3 linked regions of the Homo sapiens genome follow. The protein of the gene in region 2 interacts with the protein of the main gene of each other region in a biochemical or structural test. Each region holds a gene or a part of one and is shown on either strand. Other genes may lie near its edges. The genes, in order: BORCS8-MEF2B, CABIN1 and CAMK4.

Region 1 (6,843 bases), on a different chromosome or scaffold from region 2:
CTGAGGTGGGTGGATCACCTGAGGTCAGGAGTTTGAGACCAGCCTGACTAACATGGTGAAATTCCACCTCTACTAAAAACACAAAATTAGCCATGCATGGTGGCAGATGCCTGTAATCCCAGCTACTCGGGAGGCTGAGGCAGGAGAATCGCTTGAATCCAGGAGGTGGAGGTTGCAGTGAGAGAGATCACGCCACTGCACTCCAGCCTGGGCAACAAGAGTGAGACTCCATCTCAAAAAAAAAAAAAAAAAAAAAAATTTAAAAGCAGGTAGAAGAGGATGAAAAGAACGGAGCACAAGGAATAAGTCCTTCTTAGACAAGGTGGTAACAGGAGGGCCTCCCCAAGGTGACACCACCGAGATCTTAGGAAGTCAAAGAAATCCGCTACAGGGACTGGGCGCGGTGGCTCACGCCTGTAATCCCAGCACTTTGGGAGGCCGAGGCGGGCAATCACCTGAGGTCAGGAGTTCGAGACCAGCCTGGGCAACATGGCAAAACTCCATCTCTACTAAAAACACAAAAATTAGCTGGATGTGGTGGTGCATGCCAGCTACTTGGGAGGCTGAGGCAGGAGAATCACCTTAACCCAGGAGAGGGAGTTGCAGTGAGTCAAGATAGTGCCACTGCACTCCACCCTGGACAACAGAGCAAGATTCTGTCTCAAGAAGAGAGGGGATCCAGGAGGCGTCTCGAGAGTGGGGAGAGGGGAAAGGAGGGGAGGGGAGGCGAGGGGAGGGGAGGGAGCCTGGGCAACAAAAGCAAACCTCCATTTAAAAAAAAAAAAAAAAACGGACTGTAGTCCCAGCTACTCGGGAGGCTGAAGCAGGAGAATGGCGTGAACACGGGAGGTGGAGCTTGCAGTGAGCCAAGATTGCGCCACTGCACTCCATGCACTCCAGCCTGGGCGACAGAGCGAGACTCCATCTCAAAAAAAGAAAGAAAGAAAGAAAAAAAAAACGGAGGCGGGAAGGGAGGGAGGGGAGGGGAGTCAGCTATAGGAAGAAGTGTAGGAAGAGCATTCCAGACAGGAGTGGCAGCAACAAAGGTCGTGGGAGGGAACTAAATTAGGCATATTCTTGGACTCCAATCAAAAATAAATCCTCAGTTCCTCAGTAAGTAAAACAGGATGACCATCTGACCCAGTAATTTCACTCCTAGCTATCTACCCTCAAAGAGTTAAAAACAGGTGTGAAGGGCCGGGCACTGTGGCTCACACCTGTAATCCCAGCACTTTCGGAAGTGGAGGCCTGCAGATCACTTGAGCCCAGGAGGTGGAGACCAGCCTCCCAAAAAAAAAAAAAAAATTAGCCAGGTGTGGTTGCATGCCTATAGTCCCAGCTCCTAGGGAGGCTGAGTGATGGCTTCAGCCCAGGAAGTTGAGGCTGCAGTGAACTATGATTGCATCACTGCACTCCAGCCTTAGTAACAGAGCGAGACCCTGTATCAAAAAACAAAAACAGGCCGGGCACAGTGGCTCATGCCTGTAATCCCAGCACTTTGGGAGGCCGAGGTGGGCGGATCACCTGAGGTCAGGAGTTCAAGACCAGCCTGGCCAACATGGTGAAACCCCGTCTCTACTAAAAATACCCAAAAAATTAGCTGGGCGTAGTGGCGGAAGCCTGTAATCCCAGCTACTCAGGAGGCTGAGACAGGAGAATCAGTTGAACCCAGGAGGCAGAGGTTGCAGTGAGCTGAGATCACGCCATTGCACTCCAGCATGGGCAACAAGAGCAAAACTCCATCTCAAAAAACAACAAAACAAAACAAAACAAAAACGAAAGCAAGACACAGGTTCCATGTGAGGCCTGACATTCCATCATCATGGAATCCCAGAGGGCTAATCCCAGAGGAGGTATCCTACCCTGTGGAGAGGAAACACTGGCATCCGGTTCAGGATTCACAGGCTCAGGGGTGCAGGGAAAGAGACTGAGGACCACAGTGTCTGAGCCATCTGCAGCCTCCTCTCCGGGGTCTTCAGGGTCCCCAAGTTCTGAGGCAGGGGTCTGCTGGGTCTGGATGAGGTCTTCTGCAGGCTGGGTAAGCTCCATGGGGAAAGCTGGCGGAGGTGTCAGAAGGGGAGAGATGACAATAATTATCAACAGTTATAATAAAGTAGGCACCGACTGCATACCTAGCCTTGCACTGTGAGGGTGGGTAAACTGAGGTCCAGGTTAATTACCAGAGCCAGGGAAATGAAAACCAGAGTCCAACTGCTTTCGAGGTCTACCATTCCCCACCACCAAAGCACCTACAATGTGCAATGTTTAAGAGCCTGGGCTCTGGCAGGGCACAGTGGCTCACGGCTGTAATCCCAGCACTTTGGGAGGCCGAGGAGGGTGGATCATGAGGTCAGGAGTTCGAGACCAGGCTGGCCACCATGGTGAAACCCCATCTGTACTAAAAATACAAAAATTAGCCAAGCGCGGTGGCGGGCGCCTGTGATCCCAGCTACTCGGGAGGCTGAGGCAGAATTGCTTGAACTCGGGAGGTGGAGGTTGCGGTGAGCAGAGATCGCACCACTGCACTGTAGCTGGGGCGACAGAGCAAGACTCTGTCTCAAAAAAAAAAAAAAAAAAAAAAAAGAAAGGAAAAAAAAGCCGGGGCTCTGGGGTCAGCTGTCTGGGTTCGAATCCCTCAATTTATAGGCCGTGAGAACTTGGGCACGTGACTTAACCTTTGAGCCTCAGTTTCCTCCACGACAAAATGTGGAAATGAGACCTACAACGAATTATGTCTGTACATAGCTTATCGGGGGATCTGCTAAGCGTGGAGCTCAATAAATATTCGCTATGGTTGTTGGGAGGGGCTCCCCATAATGAGTGACGGCTCAACAAAGGTGCGATTGGTCCCAGTCCCACCCGAGCCTCCTAAATCGATCCAGGAGGTCCACTCACCTCCCCACGAGCCTCCTCTGTCCCCCCGCGCCGAAAGCCCAGTTCTCTCAAAACTTGGGGGCCCAAGTCACAAACTTTTCTCTTCCAATGGATATAGCAGGAGGCAAACTGGAGACCGGACCCTCAGCGATCTGGCTTCCTCTGCCGGGACAGAAAGCAACTTGATACTCGACCGCTACCCCCACCCCAGAGCTCCCCCACTGCGCTTGCGCACCCCCGCCCCCCAAAAGTGAGGAAGGGCCCGGGCAGTAAGTGCTGCCTCTGGCCCTTTAAGACTTAGGGGAGGGCGTGGGTTCCGCTGGGGTCCTGGGAGGGCAGTTGCGCCTGCGCCTTCTTTTCCCCTCCTCACCGACTCGGAGGGAATGGGCGGGGCCTAAAGGGCTCTGAGAATTTCACTACGCCTGCGCCCGCTCACCTTTACCCTGCCCACAGATTTTTCCAGAGGGAGCCAATTGGCTCCGGCTTCGGGTAGATGGGCGGGGCTATCTCAAGAAGAAGAAGTAGGGGAAGTACGCGGGGCGTCTGGAACTTAAAGGGGCAGCGTACCTTGGCCGTCCCGTTCCACAACAAGGTCCCTTCTGCGGTCTCAAAGGCTTATAAGCAAGGGCGGGGGCAGAGGGCTAAAGAAGGGAGTTTTTGCGGCCCGAGTGGGTAATGCGTGGAGGACTCCCCCAACTCGTCTCTCAAGGAAAAGGGGGTTCAGAAAGGGAGAGAGTTCTTCCCCCTCTCCTGCCTGGGTGTCGCTCCACCAGCCTCCTGGCCGTCGCGCCCCCTCCTCACTGCGCCACCCCCGGGTGTGCCTCCTTCCCTGCGTCTCACACAGCCCCTTTCTTGTCCGCAAAGACTGAGGAGCGGGGAGGGCGGGCCCTCTGACACCGGAACAGGAGCCGTGCGGCGTCCGGTTTCAGCAGGGAAGGCTTAGGCGGGCGTCCCAACCTCCGGGCTTCCGGTGCCGTTTCCCGGTTCGCTCGGCCGCGGTCGCTATGGAGGAGCCGGAGATGCAGCTCAAGGGGAAGAAAGGTGGTGCGGGCCTGCGGGCGGGACAGAGGGGGCCGGTAACTTGTGGAGGGGCGGCCTGACAAAGGCCGGGCGCGGAGGGACCGTGCGAGGAGCAGTGATTGAACTGCCGTCCAATCCCAGCTCTGCCGCTGACTAGTTTTGAAACCTGTAGAAAGGCTCCGTGTCTGCTTTAATTACCGGTCCCCCCAGGATTGTTTCAAGAATTCAGTAGCTGAGGCTGGGAGTGGTGGCTTTGTAATCCCAGCACTTTGGGAGGCCTAGGCGGGAGGATCGCTTGAGCCCGAGACCAGCCTAGGTGACATAGTGAGATCTCGTCTCTAAAAAAATACAAAAATTAGCCGGGCGTGGTGGCGCACGCCTGTGGTCCCAGCTACTTGGGCGGCTAAGGTGGGAGGATTGCTTGAGCCCGGGAGGTCAAGGCTGCACTGCAGTGGGCTACGGTCGTGCCACTGCACCCCCAGCCTGGGTGACAAGTGAGACCCTGTCTAAAAAAAAAAAACTCAACAACCTGATATTTGTAATGCATTGGAAGAATCCCCGGGGCGTAGTAATCGCTGTGCGTCTTGTTTCCTTTTTTTTTTTTTTTTTTGAGACAAGGTATCACACTGTCGCCCAGGCTGGGGTGCGGTGGCGCGATCATGGCTCACTGTAGCCTCGATCTCTCTGGCGCGGGCGATCCTCTTGCCTCAGCTTCTCCAGTAGCTGGGACTACAAGTGCACACCACCACATCAGGCTAATTCTTTAATTTTTTTTTTTTTTGACGGAGTCTCGCTCTGTCACCCAGGCTGGAGTGCCGTGGGGGGATCTCAGCTCACTGCAACCTCAGCCCCCTGAGTAGCTAGGATTACAGGCACACACCCCCATGCCCAGCTAATTTTTTTGTATTTTTAGTAGAGACGGGGTTTCACCTTGTTGCTCAGGCTAGTCTCGAACTCCTGACCTCGAGTGATCCACCCACCTTGGCCTCCCAAAGTGCTGGGATTACAGGTGTGAACCACTGCACCCAGCTAATCCCCTATACTTTAAATCACCCTAGATTACTCACATCTAGAATACATAATACAGGCCTACACATCACTTCATTCACATGGATTCAAAGAAGTGCTTCGTGTAGGGCAGATTGAAGTTTTGCTTTTTGAAACTTTGTGGAATTTTTTTTTTCCTATTTTCCATCCACGGTTGGTTGAATCCACAGATTCGGGAACCATGGATAACGGAGGGCATGAGTATGAGGCATGAGCCACCGTGCCTTGTCTGTTATGCTCACCTTTCTTCTTCTTTTTTTTTATTTGAGACGGAGTTTTGCTCTTGTTGCCAAGGCTGGAGTGCAATGGCGTGATCATGGCTCACGGCAACCTCCGCCTCCCGGGTTCAAGTGTTTCTCCTGCCTCAGCCTCCCGAATAGCTGGGATTACAGGCATGCACCACCATGCCTGGCTAATTTTGTATTTTCAGTAGAAACGGGGTTTCTCCACGTTGGTCAGGCTGGTGTCGAACTCCCAACCTCAGGTGATCCTCCCGCTTCGGCCTCCCAAAGTTCTGGAATTACAGGCGTGGGCCACCGCCCCTGGCCGTTATGCTCACATTCAAAGCGAGGAGGCCTATCTGGTAAGAGGTCACACAGTTTGGAGGTGGCAGGCTGGGCTCTGCCACTCAAGGCACAGTGGTGAGATGGAGAGACTTGTGTTAGCCTCCTTTGACTCCCAGACACGCCTGGGTTCTCTCTCCTGAGCAGTCACCCTGGTGATGGCATTGGATTCATCTCTGTAGCAAACTTTGAGGCTGGTGCTGTTATTCTTTTTTTGTGGATGAGGAAGCTGAGGCTCAGAGAAGCTCTGCTCTCCCAAGTCCAAGCTTTTAACTTTTCCTGTGAACATGTAACCTAATCAGTTGAAATTGGTATTAAGAGAAAGGAACAAAATGCCTGCCAAGGTCCTCCGTGAGGTGGAGGGGTCATCTTTTAAGCTTGGTAGTCAGGGAGGGTCTTGCCCAGGAGGTGACATTTGAGCAGACCTGAGGGATGAAGGAGAGCCAGTGACGGAATGGTGTCTCCAGGTGGGAATACCAAGTGCAAAGGCCTTGAGGTGACCAAGTGTTTAGAGCTCTGCTGTAATGAATAAAGGAGCAACTGGTCACATACGGGCATTTAATTTTTTTTTTTTTGGGACAGAGTCTCACTCTTTTGCCCAGACTGGAGTGCAGTGGTATGATCATGGCTCACTGCAGCCTCCACTTGTCAGACCCAAGCAGTCCTCCCACCTCAGCCTCCTGAGTAGCTGGGACTACAGGTATAGATCACCATGACCAGCTTATTTTTGCAATTTTTTATAGAGGTGGGGTTTCGCCATGTCTCCCAGGCTGGTCTTGAACTCCTAGGCTGAATCCATCCTCCTGCCAAAGTGCTGGGATTACAGGCGTGAGCCACCGCACCCGGCGTTGGTCTCAAATTCTTATCCTCAAGTGATCCTCCTACCTTGTCCTCTCGGGCAGTGAGAAAGTTCTGGGCAGTGCTGGGAGGTCCAAGGAAGAGCCAGGGGTGGAGGGCAAGGAAGGCAGGGAGGTCAAGAGCAGCCAGAACATGCAGGGCAAGAAAGGCGGATTTTATTCTCTGGCAGGTGGGAGCTATGGAAGAGTTTAAAGCAAGGGTGGGAATAGATGATTTGTTCATTTGGAGTTTGCCTCACGTGCTGCATGGAGGTTGAACTGTTGGCAGCAGGGGAAGCAGAGAGGCCAGGGAGAAGGTGGATCTGGCATCCAGGCAGGAGATGGCCGTGCCTCGCTGTGCCTGGACCGGTGCGGGCAGTGTGGTATAATAGAACAGGTGAGACTGGAACCATCAGGATCTGCCCAAGAATGGGACAGGAAAGGCGGGCCCTGCTGGCTGGCTGGGAATGCCGTTGTTGAAACAGACCCTGTAATGAGGATTT
Region 2 (10,515 bases):
TCTACTCCCAAGTATGGTTCCTCCCTCTTCTGCCCTCTTGCTTGAGCCTCACGTGGCATCCCAGCTGGGCATGGCCCTGGGAATGACAGAATGGGGCAGGGGGTTGCATCTGAATCCTGTGGGTGTGGCAGCAGGGGACAGCTGGAAAAGGCCAGCAGAGAGCTTGCTTAGAGGCCATTTCCTGCAACATTGCCCAAGGGACTTAATTATGACACCCTGAGGCACCCATGGTGCTGGTGGAAGACACTGGCCACCTGCCAGCCACCCCGTCCACAGGCAGGCATTCCAGTGGCAGCCTGCCCCTGCAATGGGCCTTTGCAAGTCTTAAGAGGCACCTTTTCAAAACCGAGGTGAACTGGCATCACTGCATTCTCCATGCTTCCATTTCTACATCTGTAAAACAGGGAGGCTGCCAATTTCTTGTTCCTCTGAGTGTTAAGCAGGGGTGTAGGAAGAGACTTGAGGTGGGCGAGTCTGGCCCCTGGGTCCTGTCCCACTTTGCATCACTAGGCAGCCTTGGCAGGTCACCTGAACTCAGTTTCCCTCTCTGGAAAATGAGGGGTGAGTTGATTACATACTCAGGTTGTCCCTCCCAGTGTAGACATAGGATGAATCTCTATGTCCCTACTCAGCCCACACCTGACCCTCGTCCACTCTGTGACAAGCTCGTGCCTTGGGTCTGAGTACTGTTCTGACTGGCCTGCTCCTCTTGCTTACCCTTCTTTCTTGCCTTGGAATTTCCAGGGGCACTTGATTTCCTGAAGAGCCTTTGCCTGTGCCCTAGAAGTGGAGGAAGCTCTAGAAGGAGTCATGACTGAAAGGTGGGGTCCGCCAAGGTGACAGATAGAGCTGGGAACCCTCAGCTCAGGGAGCCTCAGAACAGCCTTGGGCTGTGCCACTAAAAATGGCCCAAGCAGTGACCCAGCAGCCAGCAGTGGGGTTTACAATGAGAATCAGAACAGTGTTTGAATTTGTGGCATCAGGCTGTCGAGCCCCGGGTTGGCCCTGGCTGAGTGAAAGGCTGTGTCTGGCAGAAAAGAGAGCCCCTGCCCCTCCAGGAGTAAGCTCCCCTGAGACCACAGTGTGCTGGAGACAGCATGAGCCATGAGCCATGGGCCTGGGCATGGCCTTGGCCTGTTGGCCGGGAATAGCAGTGTTCTATAACTTCAGGGACACTTGTCACCTCGAAGTGGTGCCACCTGCCAAGACTGCACAGCCCTCCTGCCCCCAGGCACTTCACCCTGCTTCCCAGCCCCCTCATAAATGGACAGGGCAAGAGCACAGGCTGGCCCGGCAGCATCCTACCACCTCCACTTAACCAGCTCTCAGTTCCCCCAGGAAAGTCTTCGTGGGTTCCCAAATCATAGCAGTCATGCCCTCCCTCTGTGGACCCCTAGGCTCACTCTACCATGGGACTCAGTGTTTGAGGCTCTGTTTCCTCAAGAGCAGAGGGAAGACCACCAAAGTCTTAAGGCTGTAGGCAGGGTTTGGTAACTTGTATCAGGCACTCAGCTTAGAGTCTGGGGCTTCATAAATTATTCAGATTGTTAAAATCTCTCTCTGTGACCTCATCTGCCAGTGAGGAGCCTAGAGCCGTTCTGAAGGGTTGGGGGATTGACTGAGATGCCTGGAAAGAGATGCTTGGCATGGAGGGGAAGCCTCAAGCACAATCTCAGTGTCTTTAAGTCCTCTGAGGCTATTGGTGTGCACCCCCAGCTGCCCTCAACTCTATAAGCAAGCATTATCCCAGCCACTGTGGCCATCAGGGAACCCAGCCCTGGTGACACCAGGGCCCAGGAATCAAGTGGGGCAAATCTGAAGACAGCAAGTGTGCCTGTGGAACTGGGAGAGGCGAGGCAAGGGGTACGGCCAGAGCAGCGGGACCCAGGGCTGAGGGAGAACTAGGAGAGGGCCAGAGGAGACCCTCCTCGCGGCGACCCTGCTTCTCTCAGCTGCTACTTATGGCCCCTGCCCATCTATGATCCTGCCTCTGCCTTTCCCTCAGATGCCGTGGGGGTGTTGGCCTGGTGCTGGCTCCCTCCACCTGCCCTCAGCCAGGCCTCTTGGTCACTGCTGCCTATGCCCTTCTTTTCTGGCCCTGACTTAGCTTTATCCAAGCTCACCCCTGGCACATTCTCCACACCCTCCCTGAGGCCCGAACGTGAGTCCCTGGGCTGAATGCAGTGGGGCTTCTGCTGTGGCAGTTGGAACCTGGCCATGCCCCTTCCTCCTGTGTGGGCCGTGGTGAGGAAAACCAGGTGAAGCAGGGGCTGTCCCTTGTACCTGTCCCACTCCAGGAGACCCTCCTCAGCACCTTGGTTCTCTAGGAGCTTCATAGCCCTCCACAGGCCCGGTGTTAGAGGGACAGTGGAGGGAGAGGGCTGCTGTGGCTACTGCCCCTCTGTGGGGAACCGCTGTGTCCAGGTCATCCTGGGGCTGCCAGTATCATCCTTCTCATGGGTCTCTTGCTGCAAACACAGAAGCCCAGCTCCACCTGGTGTAGGCAGAAAGCCAGTTGGCTTGCTACCACCCTGCTGGCTCGTGACTCTGCCTGGTGGCTTCACTCTTCAGACCAGCTTTCTCTGGAGGCCAGCCTCATGGCCATAGGAAGTCCCCTCACCGTTCGGGAGGTATGTCCATCTGCACACCGCCCCAGGCCACAGAGAAGAGGGGTTATTCCTAAAGGCTCTCATTAGGAGGGGAAGCCTGACTGGGATCCTGGGGCCCATCTGCTGGCTGAATTCCCATGGCTGGTGGTGGGTCTTAGGCCTGGCCGAGCAGGCAAGGGGGCCAATCCTGGGGGCAGGGAAAGGACAAGCCCACAACAGAAGGGGCTTCTGGGAATAGTGCCCAGTGCAAGGTAAATAAACATAGGAGCCCCCATACTGGGGCATGTGAATGAAGATACAGTAAAGAGATGAACAAGGGCACACTAGCTGGCCTGACCCTGCCCGGGAAACGTGCCCTTCAGCACACTGTTACCAGAAAAAGGCCAAGCAAGATGCCAGAATGAAACCAGAGCACATGCAAATGTAAAATGCTGCCTTTCAAGCCTCTCAGGGCTGGCTGGGGAAGTTTTGAGAGTCACAATAGCATGGGGGTGGCCAAGCGGGCGGCGGTGTCTATGGTTCCCTTCTGATTTTCCATGGACTCACTGCCTGATTTGTTTGGTCTTCCATCCTTTCTGAAATCAGCAGTGTTATGTTACAAAAGGAAACGGAAAGGAGATAGGGATCCAAACTGTGCTGGTGTGTGTGATGCAAACTAGACCCGTCCTCACGGGTGTGTCTGTTGGTGTCTATGTGCCCTGGGAGGTGCAGGGATGGGAGGGTCTTCAGCGGGACGTACTGCTGCAGCACAGCGGATGGAGACCCAGGAGACAGTGTCTGCCCATTCTGGTGCCTACTGTAGATAGACCCTGTCTGTTGGAAAGCAGGTGTCTTTTCATAAGCTGCTTCAGGATCCACATCTGCATGGTAGGAAGATGCAGCATTGATGTTTGCTGCCCTGGATGTGGATAGCCTCAGTACCCTGGTTTTGTCCTTTTCAGGCACTGCCAGGAAGTAGAAGGTGGCTGCTGGCCTCCACATAGTCCCCCAGCCTGCAGGTGGACCCTCCATGTCACAACAGGAGCCAGTGTAGAGGCCACAGGGTCTCAAGGCTGCGAGTTTTAAACTCCTCTCAGGCCTTAACAGCTCAGGGCTGGAGGTGCCCTGGCTTTCCTCCCAGGGCTGCTAGAGCAGGGTGGGCCCACACCTGTGTACAGATACTGTGGATAATCAGCAAGGACCCACAGGGACAGGGCCCTGAGAGGGGTACCACCTAGACATCCTGCAGTGGTCCCTGTAGCTGGGGGCCCAAGTCCCCAGAATCCTATACTGCAGCATGATGTGGGCCAGGCCCCATGCCAAGGAGAAAGCAATGTCACTCATAACCTTGGTCCATTCTGGGCAGCAGTTTCTTCAGCGTGTTGGCTGCAGGGACCCATCTAGGAGCCAGTTCACTTATTCCAGGCCCCTGAGGTCCCACCCCAGAGATGGGCCTCCTTAATGCCTGTTTCCTCATCACTCACTCCCTGCTTTCCCCACACCCTGCCTGGACCCCGAGTAGGTGTCAGATGCCATGCTGGTCACTAGGACACTGCAGGGAACCAGGCCCTGGAGCTAGTGATAGGTAGGGGGTGCCCAGTGCTGCAGCAGGTAAAGCAAGGACCAAGGGAGATAATGGGGGGTGCTCCCCAAAGTCAACTTTGCCCTGGTTAAGCCTTCAAAGAGGAGTGGGGTAGGATGGCAAGAAGTGGGAAGAGGGAGGGGGACCCCAGGCATCCCAGGAGCTGCAGATGATTCTCTGGGCACTGCTGGAGAGAGTGGGTGAGGGCAGAGCCTAGCCAGAGCTTCCCTGCAGCCTGCTTTGACTCAGCAGTTCCACCTCTAACAAATGGTCTGGTGGCTGGGTAAGCACCTGTGCAGGGAGGTGTACACACTGGGCCTCTCACTGTCTGTCCTCACGTTTGATCAGGCCCCACCTGAGTGCATCCCATAGGGGACAGGTCCAGCAAACATATGAGATGCAGCCATACAAAAGAGGAGGCTGCAGAGCAGTGGGTCTGTCTGTCATTTGCTGCCACTCATGAGAAGGAAGGGGGTGGGGATACACTTCTGTCTCCTTGGGACAGTGAGAGGGGTCCAAGAAGCCCCTGGCTGGGCAGTGTCCCCTTTGGCACTGTGGCAGTTTCCAGGGGATACCAGACAGGGTGTCCCCGAGGCTCCTGCCACAACCACCCCCCTCACACACCTGTGCCATCCATCCCACAGGGCATCTGGCGGATCCCCGTGGACGAGATTGACCGGCCGGGCAGCTTTGCCTGGCACATGAACCGCTCCATCGTGCTGCTGCTCAAGGTGCTGGCCCAGCTGCGGGACCACAGCACCCTGCTGAAGGTGTCCTCCATGCTTCAGCGGACCCCAGACCAGGGCAAGTGAGTGCAGCCACCCTGGACACAGCCTGGCATGCTGTGTGGGTCAGGGGCACACACACCCCAGGAAGCCTCTCCACTGCTCTGGCCCAGCTGTGAGGACCACTGGCTGGGAGCCTGGACCAGCTCTTCATTCTCCTTGGGGGCCTCTCTGTCCCAGTGTCTAGAACCTAAACAACACTTCCCACCCCCAGGCACCCTAGGGCAGACACAGCCTGTCCCCACTGATCCTGGTTCCACGTTGAGACTCTGGACTACCCAGCCTTTCCTTTCCTCCTGCTTCCCCCAACTCAGGGCTCTCGGGGTGCTGTCAGGTTGTAGGGAAAACAGATGTTCAGAAGATAGCTGTGGTTCCCCAGACAAAGGCCAGTAACAGTGGGGTGAGCGACAGGGGTGCCTGGGCCTCAGTGGTAAACAGGGAGCTCTCCGCCAGAAAGGGCAGGACAGATAACAGAGCCATCTGTTACAGCTGCCATTTACAGGGGGTGTTGGGGGGATCCTGGAAGAGACGCAGCTCAGATGTAGATGGGCCTGGCCTGGAGGCCTCACTCCGTCAGCTGGACTGGGCCTCCTCCCATGCCTGCACTGTCTCACCCTCTGGCTGTCTCACTCACCTACCACTTGCCAGGCGATGTGCCAGGAGTTCAGGGGCCTCCAGCTGGGGCCTGGGGCACCCTGGAGCCAGACCTGAGGGAGCAGCTATAGGCTGCTGAGCACAGCACACAGGGTGGGCCCACTGCAGAGGGCCTAAGGGCAACAGGCTGGTGCCGGGTCAGAGGCCTACTGGCTCTGGATAGAGGGAGCTCAGGGGAAGCTTCTAGGGGAGCAGCCCCAAACAGGTGGTTAGGTGGAACACTGAGGAACAAACAGGCATCCTCAAGGCAGGGATGGGCAGTGGCCACCATCCAGCAGTGCCATGTGGTGTCAGATGCCCTCCTGTCCTCTCTGACTACCCCTGTATGACCGCAGGAAGTATCTGCGAGATGCTGACCGCCAGGTCCTGGCGCAGCGGGCCTTCATCCTCACTGTGAAGGTGCTCGAAGACACGCTGAGCGAGCTCGCAGAGGTATGCCACCTGTGTCCTCCTCTCCTCCACGGCCCATGAACACGCTTCCAAGCCCTTCCCAGGTGGTGGGCCCGATCCCTCTATTTGCATACCCTTAGGCAGGATGTGCCTAAGGGTCCCCATCTGTGAGGTAGCACCCATCCTGTCTTCCTAGGCAGGGAAGGTCAGCCGTGGTAATGAATGCACATGAATTCAGTGAGTCATGGATGCACTTGGTGATTAGTAAGAGCCATAGTGACTCCATGAAACTGAGCTCCCCAAGGGCTGCACCACCCAGGGCGGGGTCCCAAGCCCTCTCCCTGGCAGGCTGACCAAGGCCTATGAGAACACCATGTGTGTGCATCGTCCCTTTTCAGCCTTGAGGCAGGTGCAGCAGTACCTCCTTCTCACAGCTGAGCACCTGGAGGAGGCCAGGGAGGTTAAGCAGCCAGCCTACGAGGTGGGGCTGTTGGGAGTTGAGCCAGGACTGCCTCCAAAGCTTATGCCTGGTAGGGCTGGCTGTGGCTTGGTAGAGGGCATCAACTTGAGGCTGTTGGGGAGGAGTCCTTGCCAGCCCCCAACCCCAGGCCTCGTGCATTAAGGGCCAGGAAGACTTGGCTCTGCAGCAAACATGCTTGGTGGCCCTGGGCAGGTCCCCTCCCATAAAATGCCCAGAGCTGCCCGGAGTTCACGTCATGGAGTCAAAGGGGAGCTGGGCAATGCTGCCCCAGCTCAGCCCAGGCCTGTTATTCAGGAGCAGTGCCACCTCCAGAGTCCCGTCAGCCCCTTGCTACCTGGAAGAGTGTGGTGGGGTAGCCAGAGGTGCAGAGGAGGGAAGGCCTTTCTCAGGCAGGTCTCTGGGCCCAGTGTCCTTCTCTGATAACTGAAACACAGCCCTGGCCAGCTGGCAGATGTCCGGAGCCACACAGATGTCAGGTGGGAGAGGCCCAGGTTGGGCTCACCAGCCCCCAGAGGTGACTCATTGCAGTGGAGACACCAGCGACACAGCTTCTTACCTTTGGTTTCTTTGTAGGGGTCAGAACGCCCAGGGCCCAAGGTCTGTGGCCTCCCCGGAGCCAGGATGACCACCGATGTCTCACACAAGGCCAGTCCTGAGGATGGCCAGGAGGGCCTCCCCCAGCCGAAGAAGCCCCCTCTGGCTGATGGCTCAGGGCCAGGGCCCGAGCCAGGAGGCAAAGTGGGCCTCCTCAACCACCGGCCTGTGGCCATGGATGCAGGAGACAGTGCAGACCAAAGCGGGGAGCGGAAGGATAAAGAGAGCCCACGGGCAGGGCCCACTGAGCCCATGGACACGAGTGAGGCCACTGTTTGCCACTCAGACTTGGAGCGGACACCACCCCTGCTGCCAGGTCGCCCCGCAAGGGACCGGGGCCCCGAGAGCCGGCCCACTGAGCTGTCCCTGGAGGAGCTGAGCATCAGTGCCCGGCAGCAGCCCACCCCGCTCACCCCAGCCCAGCCAGCCCCCGCCCCCGCCCCCGCCACCACCACAGGGACCAGGGCAGGGGGCCACCCGGAGGAGCCGCTCTCCCGGCTCAGCCGCAAGAGGAAGCTCCTGGAGGACACAGAGTCAGGCAAGACACTTCTGTTGGATGCCTACCGTGTGTGGCAGCAGGGCCAGAAGGGTGTGGCCTATGACCTGGGCCGTGTGGAGAGGATCATGTCGGAGACCTACATGCTCATCAAGCAGGTGGGTGGCAGGCAGAGGCCTGGGGGCACTAGTCTGCTGGCAGCATCCCCACTCTTGCCTTTCTATCCTCAAGGAGGGTCTCCCAGGCCTGCCCTTGGGGCGGGTTTTAGGTGTTGTTCCCACACCATCCCTGCTGTTCACTTTCTGCAATGAGCTTTAAAAAGTCAATATTCAACCTGGAAGGAAGTGAGAGCCCGTCACAGAAACCTTATCACAACCAGCGCGGGGAGTCTGGACCGCTGCTCCCACCGCTGCGCTGGGCCTCTGGGTACATCTTAGGGCATTTCCTTCAAGACTTCTGTGGCTGTCATCTAAAGATGGCTGCAGTGACCAGAGATCCCCTTGTCATTTTGCCTTCTTTTTTTAAACATTTTATTTTAATGTATCAAGCACTTTCCTTTTTCTCCATTTAAAATTATTCCCATAGGAAGAATCTCCAAAACTTTAGTGACTGGTTCAGATGGGATGACCATCCCTGACATACAGTATTCCCTCTAATCATGTCAGTTTGCAATGCATCCTACCCCCAACTGCCCCATATCATATGGACCTTGGGCACTGAATCCCTAGACACACTTGACACAGCATGGGGCTATCACCATCAGGCCTGGGATTCCGAAAGGCCTCTCCCACTCTAATCATGGCCCTCCATCCTGCCCACTTAAAGGGCAGGTTCTAGCTCAGAAGACTCCCCTCTTCCCCTAGCAACTGAGCCTCAGCTGAATTTGAAGGCTTGGTTGGAGCCCTTGAGTCTGCCTGCCAGCCTCAGCTTGTGAGGATGTAAGTAACTCAGCCATAGAAATGAACTTGGTATAGCCAGATGGGCTCAGAGGAACAGCTGGGTCCAATTCTGGCACCAGTACCTGGTGGTGTGGCACCTGAGCAGGCACCCCCACCTGGGAGATGGATGGGCATCTGCCCCTGCTACCCACGAAGAGCTGGGACGTAGGGGTCTAGATGCGGACAGCAGTGGGGACGGCTGGCTATTCAGCAGAGTCTGGGGTGTTGGGGGGCACCCGAGCCACAGGGCATGCCCCCTACCTAGGCTGGTCTGTGCTACATACACAGACAGGGCTGGGGGAGGCTAACCACAATGGCCTGCGCCCCCTGACTTCCAGCATCTCCCTGTTAAGGTGGATGAGGAGGCTGCGCTGGAGCAGGCTGTGAAGTTCTGCCAGGTCCATCTTGGGGCTGCCGCCCAGAGACAGGTAAGCCCAATTTAGCCTGTGCCAGCCTCATCTTGCGGAGCCTGCTCCATATCAAGGCCCTAGGATGCAGGCTGAGAAGCAGATCCACTCTTGGGACTGTTCTTGTGGTCAGCTTGGGCTGAGGGGAGATGAGCAGGGGGCAGCTGAGCCTCCAGCACGTGGCCATAGTGGGCAGGAACTTGACGGCCCAGACCCCAGTTCAGACATGCTGAGGGGTCCCCTCACCTCAGCCACCTTTTCTGTAACAAGGAGGATGGCCCCTAGCCAGCTGACCTCAACTGGGAAGGTCATTCCGTTTGGAACAGAAGTAGAAGCAGCAATGTTAGAGCCAGTCTGGTTAGGAGCCAGGTGGCAGGGGAAGGTGGAGATGCAGCCTATACAGGGACTGCCCCCCGCCCCACCGCCCCAGGGGAGGACTTGTAGGGAGCAAGGTGTCCTAAGACAGGGTAGGCAGGAGTCCTGGAGTTTATTAAGCAGGGAGGAAGCAAGGCAGCAACACTCCTGAGTAGGGAAGATGGGGTTAGTGCAAGGTCCAGGCCAGGGCTGGGGAGGGGGGGGCGGGGTCCAAGATATGGCAGGGAGTAGGGAGTTGGGGAGGCCCCTCCTGGGAGGACCCCAAGCTAGAGGTGGGAGGGCTGGGATCAGAATTCAACAAGAGGATGTGGCAGGGAGGGGCAGACATGGCAGGCAGAGAGAGCAGGTGTGCCCTGTCTAAAACATAAGCCTCCAAGCCAGAGGGTAGGTGGCATGCCATTTGAGTAGGTGCAGTCTTTTGTCCCCAGGGGTGTCCCGATGCCCCCGGTAGCCTCGTCCCAGGTCCCTTTGTTCCAGGTCCCCTAGCAGAGGGCTGGTAGCTGCCTTTGGGGTCCAGACGGGCTTCCTTCTCAGTGGAATGGAGCCTCAGGCCCCCACCACCTGCCTGGGCTATTACGTCTGCGGAAGCCCTCGAGGTTCAGCTTTGACCAAGCAGGCTGTGGGCCAGACGAGGCATGCTGTGGGGAGTAGGTGGGCCTGGTCCCCAGCTAAGGGCCAGAGTCCTTGACAGGGAGTGCCCCAACCCCCAGCAGTCCCCACCATTTCATTGTCCAGCTAGGCAGAGTGCATAGCACAGCTGTCTGGGCCCCAGTGCTGGGCGCAGGCCCAGGCCCAGGTCCACCAGGGTGCCCCTGCCTCCTCCACTGGCCCAGGTGGAGCAGGTGGACATGGGAGTGGTGATCACTCAGGAGATAGGAGGGCTGTTTCTGCTTTTGACGTCCTTAAAAGATAGACCCACACAGGAAACCCCCCCACAACCCCACACTGTAGCGTGAGAAGAAAGGGCTACTGAGTTGGCAGGAGCCAGGGCTGGGCCAGACCCCATTTTGCCGAGGCACATGCATATTGGGGCCCCTGAGGGCTGGGTGAGCAGAGATTTCCGTCAGAGACCTCGGAAGACACAGCCTGGGTTATGGGGGTGGCCAGAGCCAGGGGACCCAGGTCCTTACCTTTCAGGTTGCCTGCTGCTGGGCGACGCCAGGCCAGGCCCCAGCAGTCTCCTCCCAGTTTGTGGAGGGGAGTGGCAGGGAGGAGGCCCTAATGA
Region 3 (10,515 bases), on a different chromosome or scaffold from region 2:
AGTGCTAAAAGACATGTTCCCATAACTTTTACAACATTTTACTTTTTATCATTGATGTGTTCAAACTGTTTACAAGGAGATGCTTATAGATGATAGTTGTACATATGTGCAAAAAAAAATCCACTTGCAATGGTAAGAAATTGAAGTATCCTTAAAGGCCATGAAGCCATATGTCCCTAAAGCCTGTGTGGAGAATGCTTTATTTTATTCTTATTTATATACACTATATTAATAATAACCAAAATGTTCTAAGATTCTGCCATTTTACAACCCTGGAGGAAGTAATTTACAAACTCACGCTGAGTTCCATTCTTTCCTTCACCTGCTCTCCAATAAGATGACTTTCTGATAGACAAAGCTTAGGGTGTAATAAACAGGGAAGAAAAGAAGGTAAGACTGTACTTAAACTGATGAAGATAAGATTGATTCCTTTTCATTTTCCAGATAAAATTGTATTTACTCATGAATTTATACAACTTTACAGATAAGAACATTTTAATGGATAAACTCTATAATTACCAAGTTGCAAATATTTAGAAAATTCTATTTCACAGGTTAGTGCCAAAATGTCTTCATAGAGTAGGAATAATATTCCATTTTAAGATTATTCATTATTGACTTTAATAGAGTAAGAAAACATTATTGTTTATCAAAGCTCTTTTTTTATCCAATTGATGGTTATCTACACATATCACTTATAAACTAAAGTTATTTATGAAAAGCTAGTATGTCTTTTTCTCGTATTTGGAATGAAAGTACCCACATTTTACAATGTAGTGTTGAGAATGTGGCTGCCAATAAATTTAGCACAATGCAATTTATTTACCTTAAAAAACAAACAAAAACAAAAATAAAGAAAAATACTGATTTCAAATCAGACTCTTAAAAAGCTGGAACATTAGACCTGATATTTTATTATGATTTTTCCCAGAATAAGTTTAATTTCTCTTTGACTTTCATAGAAACACTTTCCCCTTATAGAAATTGCACTATCTCCAATTTATTTCTAGTTTGAGTTGAAATGAATATTTTATCAGATTAATTATGTGTCACATTTTTGGTGGGTTTTCTCAATTTTAAAAAAGAATTCATTTTAAAAAATAATTATTTTCAGAGACCAAATAAAGACAATAAAAATGACTATCACATAAAAATCCTTGTTAAAAAAGAGATCTTAAATTATGTTGGCTCTCCCTCAAAACTATTAAATTAGAAAACGAAACTAAAGCTCCAGTTTGTAGAGGCTGTTGGACCTCAGTAGACATTCTTCTTTTCAATCACAAATCTCTCTCTACTACTGTTCTCATGGGAAGAAAACAAGGTAGGACTTCTTATCTTTCATAGTTTAAGAATCTGACAGGTCACTGATATGGAGCCCCTGAAGAAGCACATCATCTGGGCTCAGAAGATTATTTTTTGTTTTGTTTTATTTGTACTATCTAGTAGAGAGCACTTTTCTTATTCCCTCTTTCCTTCCTTCCTCATTTAATTATTCCCTCTCAGAATTCCCATGTTGTCCATTATAAGGGGCTCGCTATTTTTAACCTTTAAGAATGTCTTCTTTGTTAAGCATTAAGATTTCCATTTAAGAGGATCAATTTCCTGTTGTACTTTTTACCATGAGACTGAAACACACACACACACACACACACACACACACACACACACACACGTGTTGGAAGAGCAAAGAGAGGGAAGGGGGTCTTTTTAGAAAGTGGCACTTGGCGCTTAGCTGAAAGATCAGAACACATCATTCCTCCCTGCCCACCCCCATATTGTTCCAAGGGCAGTTGTTACATTATTTCAACACTAGAGTAGGGCGGACTGCATTGTTTGGCCCTGAGAACTATAGAAACAACGTTGCAAATACCATGCCCAATGTGTATTTTAGAATTTACTCATTTAAATGAGTGCATATTACCATTCCTCCATGTGAGTACTCGAGTTGATAATTCCCTCTATCTTTTTAAACCCATAAACTACATTTTTAAAAAAATCAATGGGAGTTTTAAATTTTGACTCATGTTAAAGATAAGATTCTGATAATGACTATATAGTGACTAATTTCATTGTTTCAGTAGGAAACAAATCAAACTTTCAAAAATGTTGGTCATTTCAGTCAAATTATTCAAAGATTTCATATACATACATCCTAAGTTAGGATAATTATGTTAACATTTTTGAAAGAACAGCCAATGTTTATATTGCTTGTTAAAATGGAATGTATTGTCTATCTCAAAGATTACTTAGCTAAATAATAGTAGACAAATGGAGATTTAATTTCACAAAATACTTCATAACATCACTCCTAATTGGCAATATAGTCACAAAGCAAAAGAATTCAAATTTCAGCAAACAATAAATTACATTTTACATTTTAGAGCTAACACTTATCACATTACATTATGGGTTTTTATTTTGAGATAAGTTCAGCTACATAGCATAAACTAGGTTTTTTTTTATAACCATGAAGGACAGTCTTGAATTATTTCCCCCATTAACAAAGTCTAATTGGAATCCAGTATTTTTTCTCAAACTGTAATTTCACTTGTCCCAGGACACATAAATAGGTAAAAATTAGAATAATATCGTGGTAGAAGTTAATTGTCCAGAACAAGTGCATTATATAAATATAATGCAAGCACATGTCATTTAAGATTTTCTATTAGTCACATTTTAAGAAAAATAGATGAAAGTATAGTATTTTTAATCCAATTCATCCAAATTATTCTATCGATATATAGTCAATATTAAAATTTAATGTGATATTTTGAATTCTTTATTTTTATACTGTTTTCAAAATCAAGAGTGTATGTTAGGCCTTTGGGACATCAAGTGCTCAATAGTCACATGTGGCTAGTGGCTACCATATTAGACAGCACTAGTCTAGAGTACTTTTTATTTTAAGCAAAGTGACACTTGAAGTTCTATGCTTAGATTTAAGTGGCCTCAGTTTTCACATTGAGGAGCTGGTGGGAGGCCACAAAGAAAGTGTTTCAGAAATGTTACACACTGAGTAAAAGCTTATTGACCACTCCTGCCCATTCATTTACTTCAGAGGAGAAATGATTCCTAACATGACTTCAAAGAACGGGCATTACTAAATTATCTACTGACCAATCCCTCTGATTCCTGATGGGCCCTGGAGTCTTGACTACAGCCTAGAGTCTCCTGAGTACTGCCATGATGCCAATAGCATTCTTGCTTACCAAAATCTACTCTCAGCCAACTATGTGTCTTCATTCAGGAAGAACTGCACATAGAATCTGATTTTGAGGCCTGGATTAAGCTTCATGCCATCCTTGTATCACAGGCAATATGTCTTTCTGGAAATCTAATGAACCATACCAAATCTGCATGATGAAGATTGTGTAATGATGGTGATATCATGCCAGTTATCCTCAAAGTGGGAATATGACCATTAGCTGGCATTTTTTAAGATTTCCTTAGAAGGGTTTAATCAACACTGCCATTACACATGGATTTAACAAAAGACTTTTGAAAATTTTTTACATACTGATTTTAGAATAATCCTCAAGGTTCTATAGTCATTTTTAGTGGAAGACTTAAAAAGAAAGGAACAATTTTTACTGTGACTTCAATTTCATAGTATTTTAAACATATTTTGTAATTCAGAATGTTTAGCAATCCCTATGTCCTGTTTCACATGCATGGTAACTGATGGTGGGTTGCCTACAGGCTGAAGATTTGGAGAGAGCCATTTTGTTTCATAAATCAGTTTTTATTGCACAGAAGCAGCTGGTTGTATTTCAAGTTGGAAAAAGAAAAGTAAATGCCAGAAAAGGCAAAGGATAAACTTAGTAAGCCATTTATTTTGTTTTAGAATTGTTTTTGCAAAGCAAATTTTTTTAAAAAAAGGTCAACAAAGTGAATCAGCACTAGCATTTTCTTGATGGTTGACTCAATGTATAATTAACAAATATACATAGCAGAGTCAATTAATCATAGTGCCATTATGTCACTTATTTGTCATTGCAAAGTATTCAGTCATGTTGTCTAGATTTACTTTAGATGGTGCAAAATTTCCAGATAGTAACCTATGTAAAAGGATTTGTAATTTCCTTGTAATTCCTGCCTATTAGTCCATATTCTGATTTCCTTATGTTCATCACTGATATGTTCCTGATCAGGGTCATTGCTAGTAGTTGAGCATTTACTGGTTGAACATTGTTTAATGGTTAGATGTTATGTGTGTCTGCATTTAAAAAAATTGTGTACATGTTATTTCACTATTGGTATTACAATATTCATAACCACATGATAAACAGAAATGTACCCAATAATTTCCTATAAAATTTTTCAAAGTCCTTTTATTCCCCTGACACACTCAGGGTGAATTTTTGTCTCCTTGGCAAATAAGAAAAAAAAGGAGAGAGACCACTGGAGAGATATCAGCAAACCACCCACAGTAACCAAGTTCAGTATTTCCTCTTTCTATATTTTGACCAATATATTAAGAGCAAATTTTGTCATTATTACTCCTTGTGGCTATTACCTGAGATCAGATAATATAATCTCAGCTCATAAAGCTTGGCCATGTCTATACTTATCTTGGAGAGCAATAACAAACTTGATTAATTTGTTTGGTTATTTAAAATTCCAACTTTCATAAATGCTCTGTGATGTACTCAAGACGATTGGGTTGTGTGATACTAACTTCCTTCAAGAACTCAGTCTGTTCCCTGTTGTCTGGTTCAGAGGTCCACCAGGGCAAAATAGAAGCCTTGCCGAGAAAGTGAACTGTCTTACTCCTTCAAAGGAATCAGATGTTGCTCTAGAGAAGACTCCAGGCATCTACCTGGTTGAGCTCAAATGAGGCAAGTGGGAGAAAACCTCTTCTCATCCTCTGATTGAAAGTGATACAATTTGAATATTGGTATATTGTCATTGGTCAGTAATGGAAAAATGAGATTCCACCAGTGGGTTACTCTTTTCTTGTCTTGGTTTGCTATGCCTTATCCCAGATCAGTGTTTTGTTCCATCCCTATGGTCATCTCTAAAGCCCTGACAGGAGCATCCCAGACTGGAGAAATGCAGCGTATCTGTGGCCCAGAATTTTGTTTGATACTCTAAACAGCAATGCAAAGACTGCAAAATCACACTATTCTAAACAGTTGTTTTCAGCTCATTTTGAAGATTGACCTGGAAAACATATAGATACAGAATATATACATTTAATCGTTGCTTGTGATTCATTGTGTCAAAATAACATTTAATTTTCACTCTGATTAATCTTTATTTTCCATTTAAAAGATTATTTCAGGCTACTTAAATACAAGACCTTGCATTCTAATTTTTGAAAGCGGTTGTTTTCCCTGAGCTCTCTCTCAACTTTGACAGTTTGTGAATGATAAAAAGTTACTAGGTTTGTCCTTTCCTTGATAGATGTAGAGCAGTTCATCTGTTTTGTAAAGGTACAGTTAAGCATAACTATAGGCTGGGCGTGATAGTTCATGCCTGTAATCCCAACACTTTGGGAGGCCGAGGTTGGCAGATCACCTGAGGTCAGGAGTTTGAGACCAGCCTGGCCAACGTGGTGAAACCCCTAATACAAAAATTAGCTGGGCATGGTGGCACGCTCCTGTAATCTCAGCTACTCAGGAGGCTGAGGCAGGAGAATCTCTTGAACCCGGGAGGCAGAGGTTGCAGTGAGCCAAGATCATGCCACTGCACTCCAGCCTGGACAACAAGAGCGAAACTCCGTCAAAAAAAAATATATATATATGACCATAAATTGAAAACTATCATCTCATACTGCCTCCTTTTAACCTGACCTATTTTATATACCTACAATACAGTTAATATGCAGCAGCGTAGAGAACAAATAGCATATTCATAATTTGTAATTTTGTTTTTCTTTTTACGGCACCCTTAAGTCTCAGTAATATTTTAAAAGTCCTCTATAAGCCAAAAGAACGTTGTAACATATCCATTTATTAAGGAGTTAGGCCTAAACATAGTAATAGTAGTCCATTCCATGTCCAACAGATGTTGCTGTGTTTCTTTCAACATTTTTCAATGTCTTGTGAGTTTAGTGAGTGGGTACAGCTGAGTTGGGGTTTAGGTGATTTCTTATGCCCAATGAACTAAAGGTATCAGTAAAAGATTATTAGTAAACAAATTAGTTATTTATGCTCTTACTTGAATGTCAGTCATTCATTTTATCTCTCGTCTTTGAGATACACACATTAAAACTTATGTGCATATTTTTTTAAAGAGTAATTTCCACATAATTCCCCAAGAACTGAACTCAAATCTCCAAAAATTTTTCAGAACTCAAGCAACCAATGATTCACAGAGCAAATCTACCAAAGCCCCATTTTTATTGGAACACAGGCATGCTCATTTATGTACATATTGTTTGTGGCTGCTTTTATGTTGTCAAGGCAGAGTTGAGTACTTTCAACAGAGACCATATGGACTGCAAAGCCTAAAATGTGTATCTGGACCCTTACAGTAAAACAATGACCCTGGGTTTTCATGGCACCCCAATGCCTTTTTGGTGACTTGCAGGAATACAGATTCCTATATTCCAGTTTGTTTTTTTTTTTTTCTCCTTAGCTTAAGGTTCGTATTCCCATTTGCTTCTGAGAAAGTTAGGAAAATTTTGTTTTATGTTGCAGATGCTCTCACAACAATAATTGTGCTGGAGATAGATACAACTTAGTGAAATTTTCCTACAGAACTAAAAACGCAAAATTGCATCACTCCTGAAGAAAAGAAATTTAGAGTATGAATTGAGTTGGTTGAGAGTAGAATTAAAAAGATTTCTAGCACTTTGAGCATGTTTTAGAAATTTGATCCTTACATTTAAAATTATGTAAATGACATCTTTCACTGGCATTTGCTCACATTTAAGTCAATCTACAGCTGTTACTTACTAAGCTAAGAAATAAGAAGATCCCTATGGTTCTGAATCTCTCATAATATTCTGAAGTAATTTATATCAATTGAATTTTCATTAATCATTTTAGGAAATATTATGTTTTATTTTGTGGCATTATATGACAATGACTTTCTCAACAATAGCTCAGGGAATACGCAAACAGCCAGCTCTTTTATGTAAGAAAGCCATTTTCTAATCCCCACGCTTTCCTGAGTGTTACGTATTTTATTTCTTTGAAAAGAGAGGGCCTTGAGTAAATGCTTTCGTTTGCTTTCCTTACATATTTAGAAATCCAAGAAGGGCCCTTGTCTTAGTCTATTTCTGTCACAGAGAAATTGTTCATTCCAAAATATCCACCTTAAGGGAAGCTAGTGACCGAGATATGGAGAAAAACATAGGCATTCATGACCTTTGTGTTTCCGTTTGACTTTCAACATCTGTAACCAAAAGGTCACAAATGAAATATTTAGTAGAAAGTGCAATATCAATTTATTAGGAGTACCTAAAATTATAACTCTAAATAATATACAGCAATATTATTGCTCTATTATTACAGCAATCAATAATATAATATAGCCACTAGGATACACTCGCTGTAGAACTCAGAACAAAAGATATCAATCTTCTGCCAGTCCGCATCATTATGTGTAGCAGAGACTTTACTGGAATGAGTGAGGGGAAAGATAACAAAATGTAGATTAGGATTCCACATTCTCCCCTGCCCATCTTCTTGATTGCTCAGTTTGAAGACGATCATTGATGGACAAATACTTTAGAAATGAATGAAGTCAATAGCTAATGTTTCTCCCAGAAACTAAACAACATAGTTTAGGGGATATTAGGCCTACATTCTAATCACATTGTAAGGAAGTGATTTTCTAATTTTGAAGCTTCCCAGGAGCAGCCCCCTCCAGGAACAATTTTCCCTGTGAACTTTCACTGAGAAACTATTATATGCCATGGAGGAGTCAAAGATGAATTAAATCCAATGCTATCCTCCAGGAGTGAGCTTTGTAGTTGGAGAGAAAAGCCAACCTTATAGATACAACCTGTACATATATAACCTATGCTGCATTTAGGCAGATGATAAGCCCTAGGAATGGAAAGAGGGAAAAGCTCCCTTTTGCCAGGAATGATGAAGGAAAGCTTTATGGAAACACAGGCTGTATGTGAAAGATGGGTGAATCTTTGCAGGTAGGGAAGAAGTAGGGGGCATGTCTGGCTGAGAACCGGCCTGATCATAGAGTGGAAAAATGAAAGGCAGAGGTGAAGGAAGAATACTAAATGTGAAAGGCTGAAATACACAGGGAAGTGTTGCCAGTGTGCAACAGAATCTCATCTCGTGCAAAATTGAATTAGACTTCCTTACTCCTTCCTTACTCTGGGTAGGTCCATGTGCAGCCTTTCCTCAGAGCATCTAGCCTGACATACTTGGCTCATCTGCTGTGCTTCTAAGCCAAATAAAAATCATCAAACACATCGAAGATATTTTTGGGAGTCACCAGGTTAAAGCAAAGCCTCAGTCACTGAAAGCAAAAACTGAATTGGCCAGGTCTCCACTGACAAAACAGAGTAAATGATAGTATGACAGATAATTTCAAGTTTTCCAAGACTCCAATTTCTGAAAAATGTCTCATGACTCCAAAAAATCACGTACTTCCTAAAATGTTGCCAGTGGAGGACCGAATCAAGGTTATTGCTGACCTCATTTTTTCAACCTTTTCAGTTATTTGACCTGAATAGGCAATCCCCCAGGATTTCTGATTGAATTCTACCTGAAAGTTTAGATTTTAAAAGACAACCTGTAGGAAGCTAAGTCTCAGGCAACAAAATTTAAAACCATCAGAACTTGTTTCTCCAAACATCAACCTGCTCCTGTCAAGTCCTTTTTCATCTCTCCCTTTTGTCCCTTTACATACTGTTTTGTAAGTTCCTTTTGATATCATTTATTGCAGGCAGTATTTTTACATCCATCTTCAAGAAACTTGGGAGACATTTAGACATTTAGTATGTGTACTTTTAGTTGTCTTGCCTCTTTATTTCAGATAATGCCTGTGATTAGTGAATGGCGGCATTATTCCTGAAGACAAATGAAGGAAGATAGGGAGCAAGATTGACTGTCATTTGAATGATGGAAGAGAAGTAGAATTACTGTGAGGTTACAAAAATCGTAAGTTAGCAGACATTGAGAAAGGAAAACTTCCTACTTGGGCTTTTCAGGCTTATGTGACATTATCTGGATGTGTTTTCTAGTCTTTCCTAAAGGAGAAATTTTTATTCCTGGGTTGCTGAAAGCTTTCTGGACTAAAAGGATATAAGCAGCTCAATAGCAGCATAGAGGATTAGATTAATGGAACAGCACTGCATACAGGAAAGCTACATCTCCAATAGTTTAGGCTGCAAGTCAGTAGCCAAACACAAGAGCATGTAAGATTTGGAGGACAAAGTATAAATATTTTAAGTTTACACAACCAAGATTATAGGCTACCTTCCCAACTTCTAATTTGAAGAGCACTGAAAATGGAGCTGTGAACACTTCATTTTTAAAACCTGACAATATGGTGCTATTGACTACTTAATACAAAGATATATTACAATATTTTTAGGTAAATGTATTAAGTCTGGCCTGGGCATAAATGTACATACAGAAAATGTTTGTAGAGAATTCATCAAAATCATGCCCATTTGCTGTTGTAGAGCTACAGTATTCTTCAATGGTGGTGACTGACCAGTGAGTTTCTACTTCTTACAGATGGGACACAACAGTCATGGGCTGTCTCAGCTGCCCAAAGCCTGAGGCAGACCACATGAGAGCTGTGGCTTCTTCTTGGATTCAGGTTGGATAACCCAATTCAGTAATTAAATATGTAAATTTTGGGGGGGGTTGGGGGGTGTTTTCTAGGAACTTGAAGAGTACGTGACATTATAAAAAATGGGTGTTGGAAGACTAATTGTAGAAATTTGACCTGAGGGCCAATGTTACTTGGTGTAAGTTCACTCAGACAGACATGTCAGAACATGCCCAAAGAAGCCTATATCTTGCTGCTGGGAAATGTAAAGCAGTTGGCATGTAGAATACGATAATAAATCATTTAAGAAACCACCAAAACTTTGCATTCTGTGATTTCAAATGTTACCACAATTCAAGAGAGACACCATGGACATTTTTCTTACACCTGAAATGTGCAGTTGAATCACTCCTTGAGTGTTTTCCCATTCTCTCAGATAAAATTATACTTTGAGTTTCATAGCCTTTTTTTTAACACTGAGTGCTCACATATTTTCTGTTGAGTAAAATTATAAAATCACTAGAGTTAAAAGAGGATATTAGTAATCATTTAATCCAATAAGCTCACTTTATTAAAGAGAGCTATTATGCCCAAGAGAGGTAATGGCTTACCTAAGGTCACAGTGGCTGAAGAAGGAATAGACCAGGGTTGCCCAGCTCCTAGTCCAGTGCTCTCACTACCATTCAGGCTGCTATAATAAAATACCATAAACTGGGTGGCTTATCACAATTTATTTCTGACATTTCTGGCACAAGTCCAAGAACAGTCCTGCAGGTTTGGTATCTATGAGTGCCTGCTTCCTCACAGAGGATGCCTTCT

What was found.
Region 1: the proteins of CABIN1 (region 2) and BORCS8-MEF2B are reported together in a solved structure, tested with the Homo sapiens proteins (one study listed by BioGRID).
Region 3: of the proteins of CABIN1 (region 2) and CAMK4, one has a biochemical effect on the other in vitro, tested with the Homo sapiens proteins (one study listed by BioGRID).

What each region holds. Positions count from the first base shown.
Region 1 is NC_000019.10:19,189,153-19,195,995, reverse strand, and holds the start of BORCS8-MEF2B (myocyte-specific enhancer factor 2B), read left to right. Parts: upstream 1-3,843; 5' UTR 3,844-3,878; coding exon of another isoform or gene 3,879-3,915; intron 3,916-6,843. Other genes in the region: DNA-binding protein RFXANK, read right to left, coding at 1,863-2,049; BORCS8 (BLOC-1-related complex subunit 8), read left to right, coding at 3,879-3,915. UniProt on the Homo sapiens protein: Transcriptional activator which binds specifically to the MEF2 element, 5'-YTA[AT](4)TAR-3', found in numerous muscle-specific genes. Activates transcription via this element. May be involved in muscle-specific and/or growth factor-related transcription.
Region 2 is NC_000022.11:24,159,586-24,170,100, forward strand, and holds part of CABIN1 (calcineurin-binding protein cabin-1), read left to right. Parts: intron 1-4,814; coding exon 4,815-4,978; intron 4,979-5,944; coding exon 5,945-6,041; intron 6,042-7,053; coding exon 7,054-7,728; intron 7,729-8,846; coding exon of another isoform or gene 8,847-8,861; coding exon 8,862-8,936; intron 8,937-10,515. UniProt on the Homo sapiens protein: May be required for replication-independent chromatin assembly. May serve as a negative regulator of T-cell receptor (TCR) signaling via inhibition of calcineurin. Inhibition of activated calcineurin is dependent on both PKC and calcium signals.
Region 3 is NC_000005.10:111,484,871-111,495,385, forward strand, and holds the end of CAMK4 (calcium/calmodulin-dependent protein kinase type IV), read left to right. Parts: 3' UTR 1-10,016; downstream 10,017-10,515. UniProt on the Homo sapiens protein: Calcium/calmodulin-dependent protein kinase that operates in the calcium-triggered CaMKK-CaMK4 signaling cascade and regulates, mainly by phosphorylation, the activity of several transcription activators, such as CREB1, MEF2D, JUN and RORA, which play pivotal roles in immune response, inflammation, and memory consolidation.